Linked DNA regions of Homo sapiens: region 2 is linked to region 1. Evidence: fine-mapped expression QTL. A gene starts in region 1. The other region holds a variant in brackets. All regions are shown on one strand. Distances are between the middles of the regions.

Region 1 (11,186 bases):
CAGAGATTTTATAGGGAAGACTAAGTAAATCCAGTTTCCAAGAACCTAAACTGATTGAGGCTCCAAGAGTCAGACCAACAAAAGTTTTATTCTGTGTTGTTTACTGGTAAGAATATTATTATCTTGATACTACCTCTCAAGGGTATTGTTACAAAATGCCACTTATGGTTAAAGAGATAGATACAAAGAGTTCTATTTGACAGAAGCTTGAAACTCTGGCATCTATCTGCCCAACGATGGGGGCTTTCGTTCTGTAATTTAATCCTTTGTAGATACATTATTTGTGTGTAATTTTATACGTGTTCATATTTTTCTCATTTTGCATTGTGTAAAGTGTACAAAATCTCAAAGTATAAAATACTGCTTATATTGCTTGTAATTTACAGTGTGTAAATATTTTCTAATTGTGTACATTGATGGGGGGGACAAGTGGGTTATTCAGGTTTTTTTTTAATGACCCTTTTGTATTGCAGTTTCAACAGATAACTGTCCATCAAATTTAAAACCACTTTGATACATTTTTATTTAACAGTTCCAATAAGAAAAAAATCTCTATTTTTAATTATATTTCTCCTTTAGAAAAAAAATACTTCATGGTCCCTCTAAAATAAATGGCCAGACCTCAGTTTAGGCCCTTGTATTTATGACTCTGGTAGAGGTCTTCAGACTCCAGGTCATAGTCCAGTCAGTATTTGCATTTGGGTTCTCATGAAAACTTTGTGACTCTCTTTTAGCACAAGTAGCCCATGGTTTTTCTTCCAAATCAAGTATTTTACTTCTCCCTTGAGTCCCCATGCTTTGTCTCCCTCCTGCTGCTATTGCCCGGTGAATGGGATGGTAGAGAGGGAGAAATGTTCATTGCACAGAGAATGTCAGGCCACTTTGGGGACTTGGCAAACGAAGCTTGCACTGAGTGGTGGTGTGTTTGGCAATATTACTGTGCCAAAAATCACCTTGTCTAATTTTATGGATATGTATGGCAAACTTATTACCCTTCTTGCAAGCTGCACATTAAGGTACTTGTAAGTGTTTATGCTTTTGTGTGTAACTGTTTGCCTTTTCTAACTGCTTTTCTTGTTACTGAAAATATAATTCTACTAGTTTTATCACATTAAGAGGCTCTCCATGCACAAAATGCATTGATGTAGCCGTAAAGTAACAGCATTTGTACATTTTCTATCTCCTGATGGCAGTGGTGCCTTTGTCACCTTTTGGAAGGTTTGCATTTTGTTTCTGCTTTCAAGCGCAAATAGTAGCTTGCTTTCAGCTTCACAAAAATCTCCTCAAATGTAAAAGATACAAAATGGCGTGTTATCATCCAGGCTTAGTTGGAGTATTTGCATTTTTATTTTTATCAAAACAAATATAATTGGTGGGGACTGGCCAGTAATAATGTGTGGCGTCTTTAAGCCAAGAGTAATTTTTAAATTAAAAATGAAAATTTTAAGAGGTAGCCCATTAAACAAGCTACTGAGTTGGAGAATTAGGGGATGACTGTGGTGGTTTGTCGCTAAGGAGGCAACAGTAGGGTCCAGGCGGCGGGGCACGTAGAGCAGTTAGCATGATCCATGGTTATTCCTTACTCATGAACAGTGTCGGCGCACCTCATTATCTGTGCATTTGTTTTTCCTGGGCAGTCCTGTCAGCCAGTTAATCCACCAGCTCTTAGGAAGTAAATACAGATTTTTTTCTTTCCTTTTTTTTTTTTTTAAAGATTTTATACTACATCTTGTTAAAGTCCTATGAATGTGTGTGTGTGTGTGCTATTAAAACTGCTTTTTCTCAGTTTGAACATGTGTTTGGTAATATTTGTTTGGGAGTTGGGGAGGCTAAGTTATCTGGAATGCCCTGTTCCCTCAGCCCACCCCAGTCCCCTGGCTTTTAAACATTTCTTCTTGCTTTGGATTGTCCAGTTTTTTAGCTTGATGTCTCCTGTTTCTGGAAAACATAAAGCCACCATTGTACACAGTTCACTTTTATATAACCCAGTTAATTGCTGTATACTTTGCAATCAGGAATTCAGTAATCTCATTCTTACCTCATTCACTATGTTCATTCCACCATTCATTCTAACAATTGAGTCTCAACTACATACTAGGCACTCTTTTTAGGATTCAGTAAGGATTTGATGGTGAACAACATAGAGAACTCATGAATCTTACCTCCTGGTATCCAGGTTAAAATACTTTCTGTTCTTGGGCAAAGAGAATTAGAAACAAATACCCTTAACCTGACTCCCTTGTTCTTGAGCCCAGGACCAAGAAAGAAGAAGCTGTACAATGCAGAAGCAGGGCTTGAGATCACCTCCAACCTGCCAAGCAGATAGAGATCTGGGTATGCCAACTTGGGAGGCAGAGGTTGAAACCTCATAGGAGGAACTTTGGAGCTCATAGAAGGCCTTGGCATTGTCAGAGGCCTTGAGTTCCAAAACCATGCCAGTATTTCTGCCTTCTGACAGGCTGGCTAGAAAGAGACTAAATGGGAGCATTTTTCTCTGACAGTGGGGCGGAGGGATGAGGGGATGACAGCCCAGGAAGAAGCAGAGACATTGCCGTAAGTACTTACTAGAGGGCAGGCAGCACAGCTTTATGCAAGTTAAGGGCCTTGACCTTGCCCCAAGGCCTGACCTCAGATCCCAGATTCATCATACTAGCCTTTTGATCTTTGCCAAATTACTTAAACTCACTGTTTCCTCATCTGTTGAATAATGGTGTCTACCTCAGGGTTTGTGAGGACTAAGCGAGCTAATGCATGAAAAGTGCCTAGTACAGTGCCTGGCATATAGCAAGAACTCAGCAAATGCTTGCTGCTCTAACGAGGCGTTTCTCTGATGACAGATTTGATCTTAAGCAGACACCTCAGGGTGTACTGACATCTGAGCAAACCATATCTCCAAAAATTATAGTTGTAAGTGTGCCCTATTTCTTTGGATACCGGGAGCTGGAGCTTCTCTGTCCAGCTATCTCTGCTGATTTTTTTTAATTAAAATTTTCACTTTTTAAAAGCCAGCATGCTAAAGCTGAGAAATTGGTGATGGGTGGTGGTTTTCCAGCATTTGTGGGAATGTCCTGACACTCCCTTTCCCTTACTAACCATTCCCTAGGCTGGAGTCAAGAGAGGGCAAACCAGAAGGCCCAGCTTTGGGTCTGACTCCAAGACGACTGGCTGGGAGGAAAACTAAACAGGCTTCTGAGGCACAGTGGAATAGTGAGACTTCCGCATTGTTGCACTGGTGACAGCCCCTACAGAAGAAGCACCTCAGCTGTATATATAGCCAAAATAAAGACCACACCACCTAAAGGGAAAGTGCTGGGCAAACCAGAGATGGAGATGGCAAAGCAGGAACAGAAATGCTGCCACATTGAACAGTAAGCAGGACAACTTGACTAGGCCAGAGTTCTCTTGCTTCAGGGAACCTGCTCAAGTTTCAGGAATTCATACCCACCCCCTTCACCTAGGATCCCTGCTACAGTAAGTAACTGTTCTGTGCAAAGTGGAGCTAAACTCTGGTGTGTAAGTGGCTGACAATCACTGCTGAAGACGGCCAGCACTACCCTCAGCCACTTTCTTACAGCAAAGTTGGGGAAAATAGACTAGCAAAAACAAAACTCATACTTTTCTGTGTGTGTGAAGTTCTCCAGAAGGTTTCCAAATGGAATCCTCTCACAGCCACCCTGCGAAGCAGCCAGGGTAGTGACCTTATGGATGAGTGACAGCCTGTTCAAAGAATGACCTGCCTGTGTCCCAGGATGCAGATTTATGGCTGGGTTAGGGTTAATTTCTTTAGTTGATTTCCAGTTTTCTTTTCCACTGTCTGTCAGTATTCCCCCGTTCTTATTTTACCAGCTGGATTTGCAGAGAGACATACTGTCAATCAAAAGGGCTTCCTATGGGCAGCTCCATTAATTGCTTTTACATCTGATACTCTCATTAGGTTTAGAGATTTTACTGGGAGGCTAGCAGAAGGAAATGGATTGTGGTCTGCTATCAAAAGTACTGAAGTAACTGCCCAGTGATCATTGAAATCACACATTTTGCTCATTTAACAATGTCTGAGTTTGCCATCAGCACCTCAGAGGAGCAAAGCTTGGTTCATAAAGTGAAGTTGAGTGATACTGAGCCTACCACACTGGCCTACTCGCCACCTCCAGAGCTATCTGAAGTCAGCACTGCAGGTTCTGTGAACATTTGGGAAGCTGTGCCTCTTAGCCCCCTGGGCCCCTACAGTTTAATTGCTCTCCTATCTGCTACTGAAGGACCAGCAGTCTTCCTACCCTGCCTCCACTGTTACCACCAACCCACTTTTTGATAAGGACTGCAGATTTATCTTTCTTAGCCCTGCCTTGACTGGTCTTCCCACCTCAGACGTCCTTACTCAGTCCATCATCTCTTTCAGGATTTTCTTCTGTGGTCTTTTTCAAACTACTAGCTGACTTTTCCCTTTTATTTCCCACTAGGAACCCCTCCCCGCCCCCCCCCCCCCCCCAGCCATTTCATCAAATCAAACTCACTGCCCTCTTTCATGCCCCTTCCTTAGTTCCCCAACACAAGCCTGTGCATAAGCTTGAACATTTCTACCTTTGCCAATGGTATTTCCCCTTCTGGCTTACCCTGCTTCCTCCTTCTCAGACTTTTCCAGTCTTGATTGTCCTCTCCATAAACACAAGAATGAACTTCAAGGCAAGTTACTTAATGTCTTAGAGCCTGTTTCCCCATCCATAAAATGGGGCTATAAATTCCTCAGGATGGGATGAGGGTACAAATAAAAAATGAAGCAGGATATTCTTTGTAAAAGTGTGTGTACATTTTTTATTGTGTTTCTCCCCAGCTACCTTCCCTCTCCCCGCCACACACATCCTATTTGCAGAGTGTTGGGGGAGGTGGAACTGTGATGTGGGCCCTGCTGTCTAGCAGTCTGCAGTCACACACAGCCATCCAAACTACGAGATTGTATATGATTCAGTGCCAAACTGTGAGCTTTGGGGAATCCAGAAAGAAGGATGAAGCCTTTCCCAAGTTTCCTTTAGTTAAATGTGCCACTTGAATCCTGTTCTGACTCCTAGGCACATGCAAGAGTCAATCACATATGTTCCTGTGGCCTTTATCATTTTGGTCCATCTCTTGAGCCCACATGAATACTGTCATGGATGGAGGAGGAAGGACCAGGCTGGGTCAGGGCCTGAATGCAGGTTTTGTTTGGACTATAGGGGCTAAGTTCACTTTAATAGGCTGTGACCTATTAAAGGAGGCAGGAACCAAGTTTGCACAGAAGGACCATCCTAGTTGAGTTAAAGGAGTTGGGGAGTTGATTGTGAGGGGTTTCCTAGATTGCTGCTGGGTAAGGTGATTGAATCTGGGAAGGATAGGGTACTTGATTGCCTAGAAGGGTGCACTCTAAGTTCTGGATAAGAATGGTGCCCAAGATGAGCTGGAGGGGAAGGCAAGTGTTTGAATGACCCAGTCCCTGAGGTGAGCCTAGGTTAGGGTTAAGATTTGGTGAGTGAACAGGTGCAAACGCTTGTGGCTTATTTATCCAGAAAAAGCATTTTCTGTGTGCCTTTCAGGTCAGGCTGTTACTTTATCCCCTTCAGGCCTGACCCCATCTCCCCCACGCATAGCTCAAGCTGAACAGCCCCTGAAGCTGGGAATCAAGCCCCTACCTTGTGTTCAGAGCTTCCCTAACGTCCAGTCGCCACCTAGGGTAGCCTTCCCTCCACACCCTAGGCCGAGAGCAGAAGCGGGTGGCAGGAGCACAGGGAGTGAGGTCCAGGTTAGAGGACAGGCCAGAAGGCCCTCCGAGAGGGTCCCCCAACCCCGCAACGCCAGGACAGGTTTGCACGTCCCCAGCAGTAGGCAAGTCAGGGGGGTCCTAGGGTTACAGCGGAGGAGAGGACGGGCTATAAGCATGTGGAGGGTGCACGGGGTGGCGAGGCCACCACCAGGGGGCGATTTCAGGGCCGCAGCGCCTAGAGGTGGGGGGTCGCCCGATGGCCGAAGGCTGTGTGTGAGCCTCGCCCTCAAACCGCCTCTATTGTGCTAGAGTAGGGGGCGCAAAGAAGAGAGTGGCGACCTTCCCCTCACCCCACCCAGTCGGCCCCGCCTTTCAGGACCCCGCCCCACCCCCGGCTCCGCCTCCACCACCCCCCCCCCGCCCCGCCTCCAGCCGCGGCCCCTTCCTCTCGCAGCTGGTGCTGTGGGGCCGCGGAGCCGCGCGTCGCTGTCTCTATGGCCCCGGATCCGAGCGCAAAGGTGAGCAAGGCGAGGAGTGCGGGCGGCGCCCTGGCGTGAGCCTGGGGCTGCGGGCCGGGGGTCGGGCAAGGCCTCCCCCACGTCCATTCTACCCTCCAAGCTGGGCCAGGCCTTTCTCACCACCAAGTCCCCCGGTCCTGCATGACGGCTCTAGAGGGGCGCGGGCCAGGCCTCGGGCTGCGCGGGGTGCAAACCGGCCACCACGGAGTCGGGGACCAGCGCGGGGAGGGGGCCGCGTGGCGAACAGTGTTCCCCAGGATCTGGGTCACGTCTCCCGGCGTCCGGCGGGATCGAAGGAGAGCTTGTCCTCGAGCTGCAGCAGTAGAGACTGAGGTTAGACCTGACGAAGGGAGAGGACCGCGGACTGTCCAGGATGTTGGAGGGAGGGGGTCCCGGGGGAGGGGCTCTCTCAAGCCAGGAGAGACCGCCATCCTACTAGGCAGAGGGAAATACCGCCTACACTAGGCAGGTGGACATCTGGGATGAAGGTCGAGAGCCTGCTGATCCTCCATTGATCCTGTTTGAAGGGTCTCTCCTCCCCAGTTCCCTCCACCCCAAGATCTAATAGAGGAAAGGTGATCAGAGTTCAGGGGGCTGGCCCTGGGGAAGAACCCGAACTGTGGAACTTGGGGTGGAGTGTGGGGCGTGGACTGGAGACCTTAAACCCGTACTTCGCCACTGAAGGGAGGGGTGATATGCTCCGCCCCGCCCACTTAGCCCCGCCCCCTCCCACAGGTTAAGTGGGGGCTGAGAGCTCCAGCCCGTCTCCCACCTTTAGAACCGCAATATACATAGGGGTGGAGGAGTACTAAATTATGCGTTCCATTCCATCTTTGCTGAAGCTAGGGGCCTCCTCCTGCCTGAGTTACTTTCCCATTCCCTCCCTTGTAGAGCGGCCTTGACTCATGCACCCATCCCATCTGCCCATCCAAGGTCAGAAGCCTCCCCCATCACCACACACACACACACACACAACCCCCTCACCACCCCCACACACAAACACACACTTGAAATTGGGCCTTAGAATTGGGACTTTCAGGAACAGAGGCAGGGTTCTGCTCTGCATCTCACCCCAGTGGACACTGGCAGCCTCCAAGCCTATGGCAAAAACTGGACCCCTGTATGCATGTGTGCTTGTCTCTGCATGGATGTAGTTGTGTGTTCAAGAACTGCGTGTGAGCACACATGTACTTGACCCTTCTGTGAACATGATTGCCTGGCCCACTATATCAATGGGTTTGTGTGCATGTCCCTACACATACATGTGTATGTATAGGACCCTCCTGTTGAATAGGTGCACAGTCCTTGACACAAACCCACATGTGTGGGTTTATCTCTCCTCAATGTCTGAGGCTGTGTGACCTGCTGAATGGATGGGCATGTAAATTCAACGTCACATGTGAATATGTATGATTACCTGTGGCTGTGGCCCTCTGTATGAGCATATGTGTGCACAAAACTCCCTGTGAGTATATGTGTGAATGACCCCTGTGAATCCACGTGTTCACAGTCCTCCTTGTGAACATGTGTGTGTGTGTGTGTGTGCACCCATGTGCATGTATATCACCTTCCTAATAGTCACCCATGTGACTCTTAAACTATAAGTGTGACATGCACCACACTGAGTGGCTCCTCTAACCTGGGGCATGTTCCTCCTAGCCATAGTGCTCCCCACACACATGCCTTTTGCACTGAGCAAATAGGAGGTCCCAAAGGTAAACAGGTGTGCCTCCACAGGGAGGGGTGGGGCATGGCCGGCTTGCCTGAAGCTTCCTGCTGTCCCAGATCCCAAACAGGGAGCCTATGCCCTTTCAGGGTCAGGGAATCCTCTTCTCTCCCTTTCATATTTGACTCTACCCCTCAGGGCTCTGCCCCTGCAGTGCTGACCTTTACCTCTTGAATAATTGCTCCTGTTATCCCTCTGGCCAGTTCCTGATTCCTCCCCTCTTTCCAAGGCCAGATAGTTAATATTTGACCTGGGAGAGGAGGCACCAGTGGCACCCTCTGGCCCTGCCTGTGGGTGGCTGATGAGATGGAATGTATTAGGTCTCTCCACACCTCACCCAGCCCAGGAACTCTTCAAGGAACCCCTTGGTGATTAGGAGGCCTGTTACAGGGGTTGGGAGAGGCCTGCCACCCACCCCCATCCCATCCCCAACTGGTTGGCTTGAGGGAGGGTCCAAGATGTGTCGGGAGGGGCCAAGGGCTCAGGGATCCCATCATTTACCTTCTTCACGTTGCTTATGTCTCAACTGGCCTTGCACACTACAGCCTTCTGCACAGACATTATACCTGTGCAACCAGGGGGATCCTAGGTACCCACCCCAATGCCTGTGAATGCCTACTTGCAGATAGGGACACGTGTGGATGCCTAGCCAGAGGGTGCAATACAGACTGGCGTGGGCAGAGATGTGCACCCCCTTGGAGAGGAATACCAAGAAGTTATAATTAAAGAGAAATTCCAGAGGGAGCTCTCAGGCCAGGGAAAAGAAAAAACAAAGGGAAAGCAGGACAAAATAAACAAAGGTCCATTAAACCTCTCTGGTTAGGCCCTCCTGCATAAGGCACCCCCGCAGGCAGCAGGGGCAGCTGCTGACCGAGTTGCATCTCATTGTTGGGAGAAGCAGGCATTCTCTCCAAGAACCCCAGCTCCTTTGACTTGAGGGCCTAGTGGAGCTTCTGACTTGGCCAGAAGAGGGTCATGACCTTGGGTTTCGGGTTGTGGGCATCTAGGGTCTTGTAAGGAAGGTAAGTTCCACCCCAGCCTCCTGCATCAGAGCAAAGCGATAGACAGAATGATTGTGAGTCGATCCTGGCGTGGGCGTTCTGTGGATGCTGGGCCTCCTTCTTTCAGTGCCCCCTGAAGTCTGGGTAACGCCATCCATCTTCCACCCACATACAGATCAAAGGGCTTTTTTTTCCCCGTTTTTTCTTCAGAAAACGGACCTCAGAAAACCAGGACTAGCTCTACTGTCGGGGGCAGGGTGACCCCATCAGTAACCTACAACCCCTCTAGAACTTCACAACTCCCTCTCACCATGGAGTTTGCATTTGATGCAGAAAGGCATGTGATCCCTCCCTCCTTCTGACCTCTTAGCTGGGGATTCCATGGCCACACAACCCTGTGACTCCATGTCCCCCCGATTCCAGGACCCCCCATGGCCCCATGATTCCTTGACTCCTATGACCTTATGACCCCTGACCTTCCAAGTGACTTCCTTGGACTTTGACCCCTGTGACTGTGCTTCCCATTCCCCGCCCCCACAACCTGTGACTCTGGCTCCCTTTGGGGGTCTTGTTAGTCTGGGCCTCCCCAGGAAGATGTGGGGGAGGCTCTGGCCCCTCCTCCTCAGCATCCTCACAGCAACTGCAGTCCCAGGACCCTCACTGCGGAGACCGTCTAGAGAACTAGATGCCACCCCTCGGATGACCATACCCTATGAAGGTTAGACCCTCAACCTCAAAAGGCAGCAGAAGCCAGGGCTGGGGGTGGGGAGGCACCCCAGAACTAGGGCTCACTGTTCCTGCTCTCCCCAGAGCTCTCTGGGACCCGGCACTTCAAGGGCCAAGCCCAGAACTACTCAACACTGCTGCTGGAGGAGGCCTCAGCAAGGCTGCTGGTGGGAGCCCGAGGTGCCCTGTTCTCTCTCAGTGCCAACGACATAGGAGATGGGGCTCACAAAGAGGTCAGGCCCTGGAACCTGGACCACCCAGAGGGTCTCTATGCTTATCCAGCTCCCTGGGACCTCAACTTCCTTAAAACCCTGCCAGCCTTCCATAGCCCCCTGGTCAGACAGCACTGCCCTTCCCAGCCCAGGTGTTCCTTGCATTCAGTGTTCCTCCTGAAATTGATCCCCACCCCAATTTCCCCAACTCTGTGGGGTCCTATTGCCTGGTCCTATGAGTAATAGGTATTGGGGTCAGTGCATCAGCCTATTCCCTTTGCCTCCACTAGATCCACTGGGAAGCCTCCCCAGAGATGCAAAGCAAATGTCATCAAAAAGGGAAAAACAACCAGGTATGTGGTCTGCCCTGTCCCCAGCTCCTTTCCTCCCCTTCTTCCTCAATCAGGGATGCCAGGATTGTTGGGGACACAGATGGGTAGGTACAGACCTGCCAGTCAATCTCAGCAACCACAGTAAACATTGTAAGTATTGCCAGAGTGGCAAGCCATGGGCACAGCATTTTTTTTTTTTTCTTTTTTTGAGGTCGGATCTCACTCTGTCATCCAGGTTGGAGTACAGTGACATGATCATAGCTCCCTGTGGCCTTAAACTCCTGGGCTCAGGGGATCCTTCCACTTCAGCCTCCTGAGTAGCTAGGACCACGGGCACATGCCACGCCCAGCTAAGTGTTTTATTTTTTGTAGAAACAGGGTCTTGCTATGTTGCCCAGGCTGGTCTTGAACTCCTGGCCTCAAGCAGTCCCCCTACCTTAGCCTCCCAAAGTGCTGGGATTACAGATGTAAGCCATTGCCCCCGGCATCTGGGCACAGTACTTCTAATTCAACCATCTGGTGGCCTACTAGTTTGTCCCGCAGTGGCATCTTCATCTCCTCTGGGATCCCAAATAATCAAAATGGCAATAAGTAGGCTGAACGCGGTGGCTCACATCTGTAATCCCAACACTTTGGGAGGCTGAGGGTAGGAGGACAACTTGAGTCCAGGAGTTCAAGATCAGCCTTGGCAACACAGCGAGATCTGTCTACAAAAAAAATACAAAAATTAGCCAAGTATGCTGGCGTGCACCTGTAGTCCCAGCTACTTGGGAAGCTGAGTGGGAGTATCACTTGGGCCTGGGAGGTTGAGGCTGCGTGAGCTATAATTAAGCCACACATTCCAGCCTGGATGACAGAGCAAAACCCTGTCTCAAAAAAACAAACCAACAAAAAACAGTAAGTAACCTCTACAGATGCTTACTTACGATGGGTTACTTAC
Region 2 (11,186 bases), 31 kb after region 1:
TGCTGGAGTCAGGACATTTTATAGAGCCTTTTCCAGTTTTACTAAAAAATTTTTCCATTGCCTTTGTTTCTGTGCTTTTTCTTATTCATCCACCAGGTGTCTCCCCAGTCCGTAGCTGAATTTCCCTTTCGGGATTGGGAATGGACGGGTCCCCTCCCACTGCTTGCAGCCTTTGAGCGGTGGGCTTCCAAGGAAGCAGGGACATTAAAGGGCCTTCACACCCCACCTTCCATTTACATCTCTTCTTGGCCTAGGGAAGACAAGATGATCTGTCCTCATACCTAACTTCCCTGAGGATCTCGAGTGATTCCTGGCACAGGTACTCATCACTGGGCCACATGAGCCCAGTGCCCTGCCTGACTGGCCATTCCTCTGTGATGTGAGCCACTCACCTCTCAAGTGGACTTAGACTCAACATATTCTGTCCACCCCCATCCATCTCCCTCCTGTACCCTCTCCGTGTTTCTCATATGCTAATGCGTGCCAGAACTCCTGGGGACTTGTGAAAAATGCAGAAACTAGGCCCCATTCTCCCCCCATCCTCCACCACGTACATTTCTCATTCTGGATTTGAGGACGGGTACAGTAATCCTCATTTTTAACAAGCCGTGGAGGAGACTGTAAAATAGGTGACCCAGAGGGACTGTCAGAAGTATTCCTAAATGATGACACCTTCTCATCTCTCGTCCTCTGATATCCCAAAGTCCCAGTTTCCCTTTGGATTTGCCTGAAAGAGTCGTGAGAATGCAATATGTTCTGAGGGGGCTGGGGAGAATCCTTTTGTAAGGGTTGGGGGAAGGTTTCCTGCTCCGTTTGGAAGCAGGGCTGCCTTGTCAGGCTCTTCCTTTCAACCTATGAAGGGGCTTCTGGGGCCGATGGAGGGGTCTGTGGTCTCTGGAGTGTGAGAACTCTGGTCACAAATGTCTCCTGAAACATCCGGAGCAAGGCTGCTGGAAAGCTGCTCTCTGTGAGGAAGAACCTGGGGGGGTGGGGAGAGCTCCTCCAGGGCCTCCCTTCTTGGGGGTCTCTCCCAGACTGGCTGGAGCCAGGCCTCCCTAATCCCGCAGTAATCATTCCCAGCCGTTGGCTGGTCTAGGCCTCATCCAGAGTCTGTAACGCTGAACGGCAGCCATGCCTTCCAGAGGCACAATACCATATCAGTCATACCTGTAAGGATGTGGGTTCCACATTCCTGTCTCCCTAGAATGCCTGGTGGGTTCTCAGGAGATCTTTTAGGGGTTTCCAGTAGGGGACCTTTGTGAGGTCTCTGTGAACTGGGGATAGAGGGATAGATACAGACTTGGCTGTTTGTCTTGCCCCACCCTTCTAGCAGACACCCCCACACAGCACAAACCAGAATGATGAGGGGGAGGGGAAGCTAATACTCCCCCCAGCCCTACCCGCTGCACAAACACGTTCTATTCCATACCTGCCTTAAATACCCCATATCATGATTCCACCCAGTCTGTTCAGATCCCTGGATTCTAGAAAGCAGTGGGGGGTCCCTAGGGCCTGTGCGGATTCCCTGGGATAGGACTGGTCTGTCTACACCCAACTGGATGTTAAGAATCTCCCTGACTCACAGGTTCGGTGGATTGGGAGGAAAAAAAAAAAATTTCCCTGAGATCTCAGGAAAGGCCTGGCTAAGCCAGGTCCAGTTGGATCTACAGCCTTGTCCTCTAATTGATAATGTATGTCACACTTGGCCATGAGGGGACAGCTTTGGTCCTCTGGCAGCTTCCTCTCTGCTGTGGATGGGTTTAAGAAGAAACAACTCGGCCGGGTGCGGTGGCTTACGCCTGTAATCCCAGCACTTTTGGAGGCCGAGGCGGGTGGATCACGAGGTCAGGAGTTTGAGACCAGCCTGGCCAATATGGTGAAACCCCGTCTCTACTAAAAATACAAAAATTAGCCGGGCGTGGTGGTGCGCGCCTCTAGTCCCAGCTGCTCTGGAGGCTGAGGCAGGAGAATCGCTTGAACCTGGGAAGCGGAAGTTGCAATGAGCCAAGATCGTGCCGCTGCATTCTGGGCGACAGAGCGAGACTCCGTCTCAAAAAACAACTCACCGAGGTCTCCTGTAGCCCATATGGGCCAGATACCTGTAGACCTTCCTACATGCTGCCTTGAGTGCCATGGTGGGAGGGAGCCCTTGGGGCCTCCCTGCAATACAGGCCAACTTCCTGTTTGTGCCTGTGGGTGGGACTTTATGAGTCTTCGAGAAGCCCAGCCATGCCCCGTGGGGGTCAGAACCCGCAGGCCTGCTCACCTGGGCAGATACCTACTCTAGGGAGGGGGCTGTGCTGGTTCTGCCTGGGCAGCCCCACGCTGAGGTGTGTGCGTGGTAGGGGTAGGTGGGAGCTGCTCTGGTGAAACTTGAGCCTTCTTTGTCTGCTTCCCAGGGGTTGTCCCTGTATTTGGGGATTGGGCCAAGAGTGGACCGGGTTGGGCTCCCATCGGAGCAGGGAGGGTGGCAGAGTCAAGCTCTTAGTTTAAGCTTAGTTTAAGGCAGCCAGGTAGCCGAATTCTCGGTCACGTGATGCTCGCCCCCTTCCCCAGGTCAAAAACCAAATCCAGTAAGCTGTGAAGTCAGAGGCCAGAGGGGCAGCCTCGGCCACCGTCGAGTCACTCTTAGGCTGGGCACTGGGTCGGCTGCTGGTGGAGTGCGGGGCAGACCACTCCCCTCCCTGGGTGGGGGGCGCGGCCTGAGCCGCCCCGCCCCGCCCCGCTCCACCAGGTCGGGCCAGGCGGGCGCCGGGAGCTGGGAGCCGGGAGCCCAGAGTTCGGAACCTAGAGTTCGGAGCCGGCTAGGGAGCCGGCGTTGTCGCGGCGAGGAGGTGGGCGCGCTGGAGCAGGAGCGGGGCCGGAACTGGAGCCGAGGCGCAGGTGGCGCTGGGTGAGTGGTGGGGCGGCGGAGGTGCAGGAACTCCCGCCTCCCGCTCATCCCCGCTCCTGAACGAACTTTCCGCTTCTAGGGAAGCTAGGGGTTGGGGTGAGGAGGGGGGTCCGCACTTGGTGGGGTCCCCGCGAAGAGTCCGAACAGGGAAGTGACACGAAAACGCACGCCGACGGGCCCCACACACGCGTGCACAGACCCACGCCCGCACTTGGGACACGCGAACACACATGCACTCGGAAAGGACGCGCCCAGTTGGCCACCCTTGCACTCCCAGGGACAGCGCCAGCCGGCCCGCGCGGACCCACAGCGGGCAGGGCACTCTGCGGTCGCGTATTGGGTGCGGGAAAGGGGCAGCCCTGTGACTACCGACGGGGGCGGGCCGGGTGGGACGCACCCGGAGGTTCCTGCTTCCTGGCCTCCCGCAGGTGAAGACCAAGACGTAAACAGACGCCGAGCACGTGACAGCTCCGCAGACCAGTGGCCTGTGCCCCCAACCCAACCACGGGGCGGAAATCCACCCTAGTCCGGGGCGCGTTTGCTTGGTCCCAGGCCGGACGGCGTTCCATTCTCCGCCTGGAGCGGGGATAAGCCCTCTCCCGGGAACCGGAGCACAGCGCCCCCTGGAGCCGGGGCGGAGCAGGAGGGCCCGGCTGCTGGGCAGGGCTGGGGTTAACTCGGGCTCCTGGACGTCCTTCTCCCCAGCACATTCTTGGTGTCTGCATCCCTGAAGGTTTCGGAGACAGGCCCTTGATGGCAGTGGACAGCTGCCCCCGCCTGTTACCGCCAGCCCAGAGAGCAGCTGCCTGAGCGCCTGCGGGTCCCCTTCCTACCCTCACCTCCACTCCTTGCGGGAGTCGGAGTCTCCTCCCCCCAGAAAATGCATGAGTGTAAACGCTCCCTCAATACCAGAGTGGGCCTGCCCCCCTAGAAAAAGGAGGACGAGCCCCTCCCCCCAGGGAATGAGGGAGTGGGCAGTAGCCCGATGCCTCCTCCTCGCCCCACCCCCTACCCCTACACACACGCTGAGCCCAGCTGCCGCCTGAGCTGGGCAGGCTGCCAGAAAGAGGAGGAGGCTCTCGGTGCCCCAGGAGGCAGGGATCAGGGCAAGGCCAGAGGAGGGGGCTCTGCTGGGGAGAGGGGCTCAGTCTGTTCTTGTGAGGCTGAGGGTCTGGGGTGAGTCAGGGTGGCTGGGCTGTGTTTCCCTTTCCAGGGAAAAAGAAAGAAAAACAACCCTGTCCATGGAGCTAAAAATAGAGCTGAGAGCCGGCCAGGGCTGTGGCCTGGAAGGGGGGGATGCTCCTTCCTGGGGCCCGGGCGAGCTCCGGCAGGCCTTGGCCCTGCGGGGGAGGGGGTGGTTAGGGGAGAAAGGCTGCCTTTGCCCAGGGATGCAGGCATCAGCTGACCTGACCGGGTCACCGAGACCCCTAGGGGAAAGGCTGTGCGGTAGAATATTTGTGAAGCACGGCGTGTAAGAAGTTGTCTGTGTGAGTGACTGTGAATAGAGGCTGTCAATGCGTGAAAGATGGTTAGGAGACTAAGTGCACTTGAGACTGTGACTGGGTGCGAAGGACTGCGGATTGTTGTGGAAGCCTGTGCCCAACAGGCCTGTGACACCGTGTCTGTGTGTGAGGTGGACTGGAAGATTATGGAAAGAAGGAACGCGGACCCACGTGACGGCTGAGACTGCGGCTGCATGTGGGAAAGGTCTTGTGGGTGTTAGGGAGACTGTATTGTGTGCGAGAAGGTGAGACTACTTGACCCTGAGGAAGTGGAATATTGTCTGCCGTGAGGCTGGTGTAGGTTTGGGCTGTAGGCTTGCACCGGTTCGCCCCAGTGATTGTTGGGGAGCCAGGGGCCGCTCCTCTCCGATAAATGACCTCTCTCTTAGCAAGTGATCCCGAGGGGAGGCTGGGGAGCACGCGGTCGCGCCAGAGGCCGGCCTGGGTTCGCGGGGAAAAGGGCACCGTGCCGGGGAGTGGGGCAGGGCCCGCGTGTTGGGGGCGGCTGGGTGTGTTCTCCGAGCCGGCCGCCAGGTGGCGTCGCCTCCGCGAAGCCCAGGTTGCCGCCTCCAACCCGCCGTGGGGCAGGCGCGGATCGAGCCTCGGCCTCCTACTCGGGCTAGGGCGCGGGGTCCCGGCACCGGAGAGTGGGGGACGGCCGGCCATCGGCCTCTCGCTTGGGACTCTGAGGCTGAGAGCGTGTCAGGGAAGCTTCGCCTGGAGAAGCGGAGGGGGAGGGGCGGCCGCCGCCGCGCCGTGGCCCTTTGTGCTGGAACAATGACCAGCTGCCGCTGGCCCCGGGGCCCCGGCTGGGGTTGAGGGTGACCACCGCCGCCGCCGCGTCGAGCCGAACCGAGCCCCCAGACACGCAGTCACAGGGCGTCGGAGGGAGGGCTCCCGACTGCCGCCGAGCAGCCCCTACGTGCGCCCCGGCGGATTCGCGTGACGCGGGTGCTTGCGCGTGTCCGCGCCCCGGGGCGGAGACGCCCCTCGGACCCTCCCCTGCGCGGTGCCGCCCACTCGCACCGGGCGGGGGCTGGCCAGGGCCGGGGGCGCCGCGGAGGCGGAGGCGGGGCTGGGCCGGGCAGCTCCGAGTGGCGGCGCGCGGGCCAGGGCCGGGGCCGGGGCCGGGGCCGGAGCCGGAGCCGGGGCCGGGCGGCGCGCCTGTGGAGCGCTGGGGGCGGCCTGGGGCTGAGCATGGAGCAGCGCGGCGGAGGTGAGGGGGGCCGGGTCTGGGAGGCGGCCTGGGGAGCCCCCAACTT[A/C]TGCGCGGTGGAATCCAGCCGGGGGGACGGCGTTCCCCAGTCGCCCCCACTTTCTGGAAGGGGGGCTGGACTCTGGAGAATGGGTCAGGGGCTCCTGGCTTCCCGCCGCAGAATGGGAACTCGTGATCGCAGACTTGACCCCGCTTGACTGGTCCTTGGAGTTTGGGTGGGAGGGAGACTTTCCCCAACTCTTCAGATCCGTCTCCGGCCCTGAACCAGCTCCAGCCCTCTGCTCTCCTCAGCCCACTAAAAGGGGGGTGCTCCTGGGCCAGAGTGATTGCTCAGGGAGTGCTGGGGAGAATGAGGGGTTCCCATCTCCCACAGCCACAAACGCATTTCTCAAAATGGAGCCTCCACTTGCCCCTCCTTCTCTTTCGGGCTCCAAGAGCGGGAGCCGGCCTGGCTGGGCCTGGCTTTCCAGACTCCTGGCTCTGGCTCCCTGGATGTGTGGCTCTCAGGGCCCGGCTCTGTGGCACTTTGGACTTATGGGCCCTCGGCTCCGTGGGGTTGGGGGGCCCTGGCTCACTGGGTCCCGCTGGCTGTCCCCTTGTCGGCCTGACCCTCGGGCCTCTCCGAGTCTTTGTCTCTTTTGGGTCCCTGTCTTTCTCTGAGCCTGTCTCCTTCCTTCAATTTTCACTTTCTCCGTGCTCGCTGAAGTGGGGAAATGCAACAGAGGTGCCAGCCCCCTTGGCCCCCTAAGAAGTCCCTTCCCCACTGTTCACTCCACACCCTGGAGTGGGCCCAGAGAGGGGAGGGGAGGGGGTTCTCTATCTGCTCTGCTGGGGGCTGGGGTGTGTGGGGTGGTCTGAGCCCCAGCCCTACAGAGGGGCCTGTGGTCACTCCCTGCTCCTGGCCTACCCCTCCCCCAGCTCCCCGCAGCTCCTGCCCCAGCGTGGACACCTCTTCCTGGTTCGCAGTGTCTTTTGACTTGGGTGGGAAGGAGGGCGGTGGATTTAATGGAGGGCATGCGAGAAAGAAGGGGAACAGATCAGGCAAAGGAGTTAGATAATGTCCCACCTCTCCCCACACGCCGAAGAGAGAAGGAAACAGGCTCCCCCCACCAATGGGCCCTCAAGCCACCCAGGCTCCCACCACTCTCATACCTGCGTGCCCACGTTCACAGGCTCCACTGCACCACTCACCTTCCTAGTCACACACAAACACAGGAGCTCACACATAAACTCATGAACTTACTGACAAGTCTGTCCAGGCACCGTCTCTCCCACACACCACAAATTCACTTGTTAGATCCACATTTATAACTTTCACAGGCTTTCTAATGACCCCTGATCCACATACTCTTCTAAGATATACACATGTGAATTCACACATGAACTCATATGTATGTGAATGAACTGATATATCAAACATGCATAGACTCACATGATGTTTTCACACACATTTTCATACACACGTGTTCATTTTCATGCTCCTGTGCATGTAGTCACACAACAAATAACTAAATGCACACACTCCTACTCCCAGTGCAATTCTCTGTCCACTTCTTGGCCCCGCTCTGCATGATGACTTCAGCAGATGCCTAAGTCCTGGTCATCAGCGGCCTCGGGACTGGGACTAGGGAGGGGGTTCCGGGTGGAGGCTTGCAGCTGCTTCCAGGAAGGAGCAGAGCCTGGGGAGGTGGAGCCCTCTTGCCTGGGCTCTGTGGAAGTGAGGTTTTGGAGCAGCCTCCAGAGGTGAAGGCAGGGCATCTACCTTCCTCCCCTCAGGGTTAGTTTGGGGACCTTCTGAAGCTGTAGGGTTTCAGAGAGGTTGGCAGTGGGGCAGAGCCTGTGGAGGCTCCTTCAGGCCTTCAGGCCTCACCGATTGGGTGTGCAGAGGCTAGGAGTTGTCATGGAAACTGGTATGAGCCTGCATCCACCTCTGGGAGGCAGGAGACCCCAAAGGACACCTGTGGACTCCCTAAGAGCCGCGGGTTTCTTATTTAGCCAGATCGACAGAGAGGCAGTTTAGCCGCCTTTCTGTCTGAGAGAAACTGAGGCCCAGCAGAGGGAGGCAGGGCACTGCCTGGCCTTGGCTCTTTGTTCCCTAATTACCATCTGAGGTGCTGATTGCACCCCTGAGGTACCTCTGCCCAAACTGCCCTGTAATGAGGCCACCTGGCTGAGAGGACCAGGGACCTGTGCTTCAAGCTGGTAGAGAAGGCCCCTCCCTCACCTGAGTCCTGGCCTCTGTGGAGGATGCAGGATTGGGCTTGGGCCTGGGTCTTTGCTGCCAGGTGGCCCTGCGGTAATCATCCAGGCCTCCCATGCCTCTCAGCATCTCTGCTGAGTGAATTCACTCCTCAGCCCTGTTCAGACCAGCATTGGGCAGTGTGGTTTGGGGCCCAGGGGGAATTGAGATTCATTCCAGCACTTGAAGGGGGAGTCTTGGTGGGGATCAGGGCTTGTTACTGATGTCAAGGAGGTGTTTGGTCAGGATCAGTGGGTCAGGAGGGGTCTCAAGGTGGAGGGACTCTGACACCACTGCCCTGCTTACAGGTCGCCTGCGAGGCCGCTGGCCAGGCCTGAGCCTCTGCCACCATGGCCATTGTGCAGACTCTGCCAGTGCCACTGGAGCCTGCTCCTGAAGCTGCCACTGCCCCACAAGCTCCAGTCATGGGTAGTGTGAGCAGCCTTATCTCAGGCCGGCCCTGTCCCGGGGGGCCAGCTCCTCCCCGCCACCACGGCCCTCCTGGGCCCACCTTCTTCCGCCAGCAGGATGGCCTGCTACGGGGTGGCTATGAGGCACAGGAGCCGCTGTGCCCAGCTGTGCCCCCTAGGAAGGCTGTCCCTGTCACCAGCTTCACCTACATCAATGAGGACTTCCGGACAGAGTCACCCCCCAGCCCAAGCAGTGATGTTGAGGATGCCCGAGAGCAGCGGGCACACAATGCCCACCTCCGCGGCCCACCACCAAAGCTCATCCCTGTCTCTGGAAAGCTGGAGAAGGTGAGGACCGGCTCTTCCTTGTGGGCCTGGGTAGAACGGGAGTCCTCGCTTGGGAAACTGGAATTTAGAAGCTTATATAGAGGAAAGAGTGTGGGCTCCAGATTCACCAGACCTGGGTCCTAATCCCAGCTCTCTCTCATTCTGGATGTGTGACCTCAGGGAAGTCACTTAACCTGAGCCTCAGTTTCTAGAACTGACATGAAGGTCAAATAATGTATAGCATAGTGCCTAGCACGTAGCATGTACGCAGTAAGTGCTAGTTGCTTACGTTCTGGTTATTCTGCACCAGTTATACGTTTGACTTTGGGCAAGGCCTTTAACCTTGCTGAGCCTCCATTTCCTCATCTGTAATATGGGGATAGTGATCATATTTAGATAATGGAGATAAACTTTTCAAATTGCTTGACACAAAGCTGACACTGGTGGCCACCTCCACCAGTGGCCGCAATTGTTATGAATATATGGGCACTGGGGACCCAAGACGGGAGGGCAGGGAGTGTCATAAGGGCTCTGCAAGATTGGGCAGCTCATCTCCAGTGTCACATGGCACCTCATTTCAGAACATGGAGAAGATCCTGATCCGCCCAACAGCCTTCAAGCCAGTGCTGCCCAAACCTCGAGGGGCTCCGTCCCTGCCTAGCTTCATGGGTCCTCGGGCCACCGGGCTGTCTGGGAGCCAGGGCAGCCTGACGCAGCTGTTTGGGGGCCCTGCCTCCTCCTCCTCCTCTTCCTCCTCCTCTTCAGCTGCTGACAAACCCCTGGCATTTAGTGGCTGGGCCAGTGGCTGCCCATCAGGGACGCTATCCGACTCTGGCCGAAACTCACTGTCCAGCCTGCCCACCTACAGCACCGGAGGTGCCGAGCCAACCACCAGCTCCCCAGGCGGGCACCTGCCTTCCCATGGCTCTGGGCGAGGGGCACTGCCTGGGCCAGCCCGAGGGGTCCCTACTGGGCCCTCCCACTCAGACAGTGGCCGGTCCTCCTCCAGCAAGAGCACAGGCTCCCTAGGGGGCCGTGTGGCTGGGGGGCTTTTGGGCAGTGGTACTCGGGCCTCCCCTGACAGCAGCTCCTGTGGGGAGCGCTCACCACCACCCCCGCCTCCACCTCCTTCGGATGAGGCCCTGCTGCACTGTGTCCTGGAAGGAAAGCTCCGAGACCGGGAGGCAGAGCTTCAGCAGCTGCGGGACAGTCTGGACGAGAATGAGGCTACCATGTGCCAGGTGTGGTCAGAGGCAATGATGGGGAAGGGGCATGGCAGGACATCCCAAGGCCCTGGGATGCAAGCGGCATTTCCATTTTGGCAGGGAACGGGGGTTGGGTAGTTGTAGTTGTGACCCCCCTGCCCTCCCCACCAGTTGTCTGGTTTAATGTGTGGAGTAGCCAGGTGTGGTGGCTCACATCTGTAATCCCAGCACTTTGGGAGGCCGAGGTGGGCGGATTGCTTGAGCTCGGGAGTTTGAGACCAACCTGGGTAACATGGGGAAACCCCATTTCTACTAAAAATAAATTAGCTAAGTGTGGTGGCATGTACCTGTAGTCCCAGCTACTTGGGAGGCTGAGGTGGGCGGATCACTGGAGCCCAGGAGGAGGAGGTTACAATGGACTGACATTCCACCATTGCACTCCAGCCTGGGCGACAGAGCAAGACTCTATCTCAAAACAAAAAACAAAACTTGTGGGGTGGAAAGGAGTCAGAGTGCATGGATTCAAACCTCCCACTGCCAAATACTAGTTTTTGGGCTTGAGCAAGTTGCTTAACTTTACTCAGCCTTTATTTCTTCATCTATATAGGGATATTTCTAGCTTCGTAGGATTATTATGAGGATTAAATAAGGCAAAAGGTGTAAAGTGATTAGACTAATGCCTGGTACCTAGGAAGTGCTATATAAATGCTTGCCTTTTTTAAAATTTTTTATTATTTTTTATTTTTAGTAGAGACAGGGTTTCCACCATGTTGGCCAAGCTGGTCGCGAACCCCTGGCCTCAAGTGATTCACCTGCCTCGGCCTCCCAAAGTGCTGGGATTACAGGCGTGAGCCACTGCACCCGGCCAAGTGCTTGCTTTTTTTATTTTTTGAGACAAGGTCTCATTCTGTCACCCAGGCTAGAGAGCAGTGGCGTGATTTCAGCTCCCTGTAGCCTCAACCCCCTGGGCTCAAGCAGTCCTCTCACCCCAGCCTCCCAAGTAGCTGAGACTACAGGCGCATGCCACCACACCAAGCTAATTTTTGGTCTTTGGAGAGGCAGGGTTTTGCTGTGTTGCCTAGGCTGGTCTCGAACTCCGGAGCTTAAGTGATCCACCCACCTCGCGTGAGCCACCGAGCCCGGTCTGCTTGCTCTTGTGTTTGTTTCTATGATCATCATAAAAGCAGTTAGTATTGTTGTTGCAATTACTATTGTTGTTTAATGGAATCCACCCTTCCTGAGCCCTCGGAAGTGGGCTGCCAGAGCAGACACTGAGTGGGGAGTTGGGAAAACTGCCCAGGAGCCAGGTCTCTCTTCTCGCCTGCAGGCATACGAGGAGCGGCAGCGGCACTGGCAGCGAGAGCGTGAGGCCCTGCGAGAGGACTGTGCGGCCCAGG

What was found. PIP is the estimated chance that this variant, and not a neighbour inherited with it, causes the effect.
Region 2: its variant is the best candidate, but not a certain one, in a credible set for the expression of SEMA4G in lung (TOPMed, PIP 0.68).

The regions. Positions count from the first base shown.
Region 1 is chr10:100,963,343-100,974,528 of GRCh38, forward strand. It overlaps SEMA4G (semaphorin 4G), which reads left to right and starts at 6,162. Exons shown (of 15, transcript NM_017893.4): 1 at 6,162-6,249; 2 at 9,187-9,694; 3 at 9,787-9,935; 4 at 10,205-10,267. The coding sequence starts at 9,571. It overlaps SLF2 (SMC5/6 complex localization factor 2), which reads left to right. Exons shown (of 20, transcript NM_018121.4): 20 at 1-1,792. RefSeq lists silencers at 2,490-2,784, 6,119-6,178.
Region 2 is chr10:100,994,342-101,005,527 of GRCh38, forward strand. LZTS2 (leucine zipper tumor suppressor 2) reads left to right here and starts at 5,467. Exons shown (of 5, transcript NM_001318100.2): 1 at 5,467-5,611; 2 at 8,156-8,605; 3 at 9,166-9,825; 4 at 11,117-11,186. The coding sequence starts at 8,198. It overlaps TWNK (twinkle mtDNA helicase), which reads left to right. Exons shown (of 5, transcript NM_021830.5): 5 at 1-62. RefSeq lists enhancers at 1,686-2,555, 2,359-2,488 and silencers at 2,639-2,928, 4,719-5,128, 5,229-5,608. The variant A/C (reference allele first, on the strand shown) is at 5,658.